Linked DNA regions of Homo sapiens: region 2 is linked to region 1. The links come from fine-mapping of genetic effects on gene expression. A gene starts in region 1. The other region holds a variant in brackets. All regions are shown on one strand. Distances are from middle to middle. Region 1 holds the start of FRS3 (fibroblast growth factor receptor substrate 3). Region 2 has its middle 12 kb from the start of PGC.

Region 1 (2,901 bases):
GCAGAGCCTCCGTGCAAGAGGGCTCAGGAGCTGGACATCCCCAACACCCGCTGCCCTGAAGGGCAGAGCCCGAGAGGACTTAGGGCTTGGGGAGGTGGAGGGATGGGAAGATTTCTGGGGACAGTGGGAGGGAGAAGGAAGGGGAGTGCCCAGTCCCGCCAACTGCCCTCTCGATAGATCCCCAGAGTTTTTCTGGAACTTGGCGGGCCCGCCTCCGGGGCTGGGACGCGGTGTTTCCCGAGTCCGCTGGGGTTCCCGGTCTGGCTGCTGGGATTTTAGGGGAGGGGACCAGGACTCCGCTGGGGTCTCACCCTCGCTGTGCGTCGCTGTCCGGGCAGTTCTGGACCGACTCTGCCGTCAGGCCCCTCACCCGGTCCCCACCCCAAGGCTTCAGCGCCCGCCCCCGTCCGCCCCCGCCCGCCCTAATAGCGCGGCCCTTCCTCTCCCACGCCCCAGCGGCCCCCGCCCGCCCCTCCCCGGCTGGTGGAGAGGGGCGGCTCAGGGAGGGGCCTGGAGCTGCAGATTGGGGGGAGGAAAAAAAAAAGGAAAACAAAACCACATTTATGGGATCTCAGGGTGGAAATGTGCGGGCTCCATGGCCTCTGCCATGCAGGTGCAAGGGCTCTCTGGCTCGGACTGCGCCCGGCAGGCATCCAGCAGACGCCGGGAGCCGCGTTTACGCTGGGTTTTCAACCATTCGCTGAATGGAAACGCCTCGCCGGGCCCGCAGCCCTGTCTCTCCGCAGTTCCCAGGTCTCCCCAAACTCTCCCTGTGGTCTCCCAGCCCCGCTCCTCCGCGTGTTTCCCTTCAGTTCTCTCCCCCTTGTCCCCAGTGGTCCCCCTGGCCCCTTCCCCTCCCCTCAACCCTCTTCCAGGTTCCATCGTCTTGCCCTTCTCCTTTCAGGTCCCTTCAGACCCTCTCCCCTTCCCTTCGTTTCTCGCCCAACCCTCCGTCCCCTTTCCGCTCCCCGGACCACCCCCAACTTTGGTGTCCTCAGCCCCGCCTCCGCGCCCCGCCTCCGCCGCAGGCTCCGCCCTGTCCCCTCCGGGCTTGCTCAGCCCCTGGCCAGGAGCGCCCTCTGGCGTCTGCGCATGCTCACTGCTCCCGACTGCAAAGTCCTCCAAAGGGACCTTCTAGGCTGCGTGCCGGTCGCCCCCGCTCGGGTCCGCCAGCCCGCAGCGTCTCGTTGGTGCTGCCGGTGACCTCCGACCCCGCGGCCGCGGGGCGGGGCGGGGCGGGGAGGCCTTAGCTCCGGGCGGGCGGCGGCTGCTGCAGCGGGACCCGGGAGCGGGGCCCGGCGCCGCCCGGGCCGCGGGGCGATGTGAGTCGGGGCGCGGCGGGGCGGGGACGAGGCGGCTTCACCGAGGCCGCGCCGCGCCGCGCCGCGCCGCGCCGCAGTCTCCACTCCCTCCCTAGGAAGCCCCGGGCGGGCGGGCAGGCGGCGGAGCACCGGGGCTGGGGGCGGGGATCCGGGGACAGCGCGCACCCAGACCTCCTCATTCCTTACGGGCATGTAGAAATTCCCCTTGACAGTCCTGTAGCCTGTCCTGCAGCCTCTGGCTCCCCCAACCCACCTCTACCCTCTCCGCCCTGGACACATCATCGCATCTCCTGGAGCCCTCAGAACCCCCTCATTCACTCAACAAATCTCCTGCTATGCCCACGGACCCACCATTTCTCTTGGATGCCCCCAAATGCTTCCACTGCCCGGAAATTCCTAGGATCCCTCATATCCCCATTCTCCTTGCACTATCCAAAATGCCCACATCCAAAATTCTTGCTCATGTTTCCCCAAACGTCCTCATACGTTTTCAGCCCCCACACCCCCCTCTCACTCCTGCCCCTGATCCATACCTATCCCAGACCAGAGGCCTCTCCCCATTTCCACTCAATGCAGTCCCTCCTCAGTGGGCTATCTGATACATCCTGATATCTTAAGGAGAAGAGATGGTGATAGGGAAATTCAGCCCCTCCCCCATCTTGCACCCTAGAGTTCTTCGTTTCAGTGCCCGCGCCGTGCCCCCGTCGGTGGCTCAAGCCCCAGTATTTTCCCAGCAACCTATCTTTAGTCTGTGCACACCTCCCTGAGCCTGCTTCTTCCTTCCAGAAAATAAGCCAGACCAAGGGGATGGGGTCCTTTTACCTGGAAGTTGTCCAAGGATGCAGGGTGCAAGGGGCCCTGGGAAGTGTTTCTCCAGAGCAGGAATGTGGGATGTCCAGGGTCTGCAGAGTCCTGGCTTGTTGACTTGTCTACCTTGGGCTCAGATATCCTGAAATTTTGGCTTACTGTTAACATTTATGTTAAAATTAGGCCTTTCAGAGCTTGGGGAGCAGAAAATCTATCAAGCTTCCAAATGCGAAATTGAAGCAGCCTGTCTTGGAAGATGAACATGTCAATTTTAGTGAAGTTTGTCTTACGTTTTTACCTCTGCAAGTTATTTAAGCTAGAAGCTCCCCAGTTTATAGATGGTTCCCCCAAAAACTAAGGCCTTAGGTGGGAGTTGGGGGGGGCGTTGACTTAAGTCTCCCAGATACTTAGTAGCAACAAAACTGACCGATATATTGGTTTCCTGAGTCTTAAACCAGTGCTGTCTCTACTATATCACAGTGTCCTTTTGAGAAAGCTCTTTGTAGAGTTAAAGTTCTCTGCAAAGGTAAGGTGATGGTTTTGGTGTTTGTTGTAACAGGACTCAGAGGGAGATCTAAAGTGACTTAAAAGGTCTTTGGTCGTCTTAGACTTCAAACTTATTGATGTTCTTGGTGTCTGTCCCTCTCAGGGCCCGTGGGGCTTGGGATTTGTGCTCCCTTTGCCCTTGATTTTACTTTCTTCATTGGTGTTTTTGTCCCATTAGGGCTGGAACAGATACCCAGGTGGGATGGACTGTTAGGTCAGTTTTCAT
Region 2 (2,901 bases), 20 kb after region 1:
TCAAGCGATTCTCCTGCCTCAGCCTCCCAAGTAGCTGGGATTACAGGTGTGCGCCACCATGCCTGGCTAATTTTGTATTTATAGTAGAGACGGGGTTTCTCCACGTTGGTCAGGCTGGTCCTGAATTCCTGACCTCAGGTGATCCGCCTGCCTCCGCCTCTCAAAGTGCTGGGATTACAGGTGTGACCCACCACGCCCAGCCAAATGTTTATCGTATAAGCACCCCAGTACTTGGTAATTTGCTACAGCAGCCCAAACTAGGATAGGAGGCTACTGCTATAATCTAGAGGGAGATGATGGTGGCTTGGAATTGGGTGGTGGCAGTGGAAAAGGGGAGAGGTGGACAGATTTGGGATGTATTCTGAAGGTGGACCCAATAGGGCATTGACAATCGAAATATAAGTAGGATATGGGAAAAGGAAAAAGAGGATTAAGGAGGACTCTGAGGTTTGGGGTCTGACAACTGGAAGAAGAGAAAACTTTTACTAATATGGGAAAGGAATTTGGGGGTAAGAGGGGCAGATTTGAGCTGGAAGCCTGGGGGGACAGTTCCCTTGACACTGTGACCCATCCCTGGAGCCAGAGATTGCAGAGCAGGGTCCTTCAGGCACCGCCAAGCACTCCACCAGCCCCGAACTCCTGAGGGCAAGGCCAGGCCTTGTGGAGGCCCCATCTCACTGCTCCTGTCCCTGTGATTTGGTCTCTGCTGTCTGCTGGACCTGTGATCAAGTGTAACCTGGATGCCAAGCCCCACCACACACCCAGGGCTTTGGGACATGCAGCAGCAGTGCTGTGGGTGGAAGGGCATATTCATGTCCAGAGCAGGTCTGGGGAGTCAGCAGAGAGAGCACAGCAGAAGTGAGACAGACTCCCTGGAGGACAAGCCCCTGGGGCCTCGGTCCTAGCACTAGGCAGCAGTGAAACATTCTCCTACAAAGGGAAAAAGTGGAGATTCTCAGAGATCCTCCTGGAACTTTAGGATCAGAGACTCAGCTCCCTGGAATCTGAGCGGGGCTGGGGGAGGGTCCCCAGACTTGGCAGGAAACAGGCACAGTCAGACACACACCTCCCAGGTAACCTCAGAATCAGCAAAAGGGGATCTTCAGGCAGGAAGTCAATGCAGGTGGCTTTAAGGCTCATCTAAGGCCTCTGGATCCTTTCTCTTCCCCATCACTGTGGGGTGCATGAAGACCCCCTGAGGCTGGGGTTCCCCCTATCTGCTCTAGTTCTCAGTTTTCCACACTGTACAATGGGCACACAGAGCCAGTCCCTCTGGATGTTGGGATGTTGGGAAGAGTTGATGTGCTATACATACCTACCAAGGGGCATCCCTCTGGAGGCTGCTCAGCCCCAGCCCCCGTCATGGGCCCCTGGTGTCCCACACTAGGAGTCCCTGAGCACAGGGAGAGCCGTGGCCAGTGGCACACTGCTGCTCACAGGCACACCTCTCCAGAACCCAAACTAGATTGGCCAGGATC[C/T]GAGCTGGCTCCAAGGACCTGGGACTGTAACCGTATCCATATGAGGCTTGACTAGGGGCCACGGGGTGGAAGCGTGAGGTCCAGGCCTAGAGCCTCCTGAGCCCATTATCAGTGTTTGGTTTGGGACTTTTGCATTAGGCTCGGTTCCTGCTCCTTATCCAGGCCCTGGTGATTACGTTCTTTGGCGTTTGATGTGCCGGAACCTGGACACTGGACTCTCCCCTTTCTGCCACCCAATTCTCAACCCCACCCAGAGAGACCTAGTCTGGGACCACATCCAGCTCAGTCCAAACAACCCCTCCTTCATGGCCTCTCTTACCTGCATTGCCTCCTGCTGCCCCTCCAACTCCCACAGGGTACTGGGAGAACAAGGCAAAGGAGCATGGGTTCCTCCTGGCGCCTCTGGAACAGGTCTGGGAGCTCCCTACAAAGAGTCCTATCCAGACCCCCGCCAGCCCACACTCCTCCCCTGCCTGGATCATTCCCCCTGCTTTCTTCAGGGCTGCTCCTGCCTTCCCATTTCCTCCTCAATAAAGGCCCCTCTACCCTGATCTGCTGCTTCCTAAGCTCATGGCTGGGCTATGGTGGGGTCTCTCCCTCCAGCCTTGGTGAAGAGGTAGAAGCTGCCCATGAGCAAGCGGCTGCTCCTTGCCGTCACTGGCTTCCATTTCTCTGAAGGGCTGCTCTGGTACAGAGTCAGGGGGTGATCAGGGGTGGGGACAGGGGTGTCAAGTGTGAGTGTCCTCCAGGCCTGGTCTTTTTTTTCTGAGACTGGGTCTTGCTCTGTCATCTGGGCTGGAGTGCAGTGGCTCAATCATAGCTCACTGCAGCCTCAACCTCCTGGCCTCAAGCAATCCTCCTGCTTCAGCATCCAGAGAAACTTGGACTACGGGCGCATGCCACCATACCTGGCTAACCTGCCGGGTCTTGAAAGACATCAAAGTTCAGGAGTTCCTTCCTTCCCTGGATCCAGGGATTAGATTAGATTTCTCTTGGAGCAGATTAGATTTCCTGCTCTCGTACGTCACGTTCAACCCTGTCTCTCCACTGAATCCATCACTGATGGCAGCAAGAGATGATTAAATAAAGCAATGAGACTGTGGCCCATCTCAGCCCCAGGCCTCATGCTAACCTTGGCTGGAGAGCCTTAACTCGTGGTTGGCTGGACTTAAGAGAAACTGGGCTATGAGTGAAATCAGCTGAACTCCCACCTGCCAGGGTCCTGCTAAAGAAATGCAGGAGCGGCTCTCACTCTCAGACTTCCTGAAGAAACTCCAGCCTGACCCTGCCAACAAACATCTCAACTATGTCAGGCATCAATGAGAGAGGCTTATACACTGCAGTCCCGTAAGATAATAATACTGTATTGTTACTGTATCTTGTCTAAGATTAGACACACAAATGCTTACCGTTGTGTTACAGT

What was found.
Region 2: its variant is fine-mapped to the expression of FRS3 in sun-exposed skin (GTEx, PIP 0.96).

The regions. Positions count from the first base shown.
Region 1 is chr6:41,778,237-41,781,137 of GRCh38, reverse strand. FRS3 (fibroblast growth factor receptor substrate 3) reads left to right here and starts at 1,238. Exons shown (of 7, transcript NM_006653.5): 1 at 1,238-1,322. PRICKLE4 (prickle planar cell polarity protein 4) reads right to left here and starts at 356. Exons shown (of 8, transcript NM_013397.6): 1 at 312-356. RefSeq lists silencers at 573-642, 923-1,332, 1,363-1,512.
Region 2 is chr6:41,758,325-41,761,225 of GRCh38, reverse strand. No RefSeq gene overlaps it. Among named protein-coding and RNA genes, the nearest start is that of PGC, 12 kb to the right of the region's middle. The variant C/T (reference allele first, on the strand shown) is at 1,479.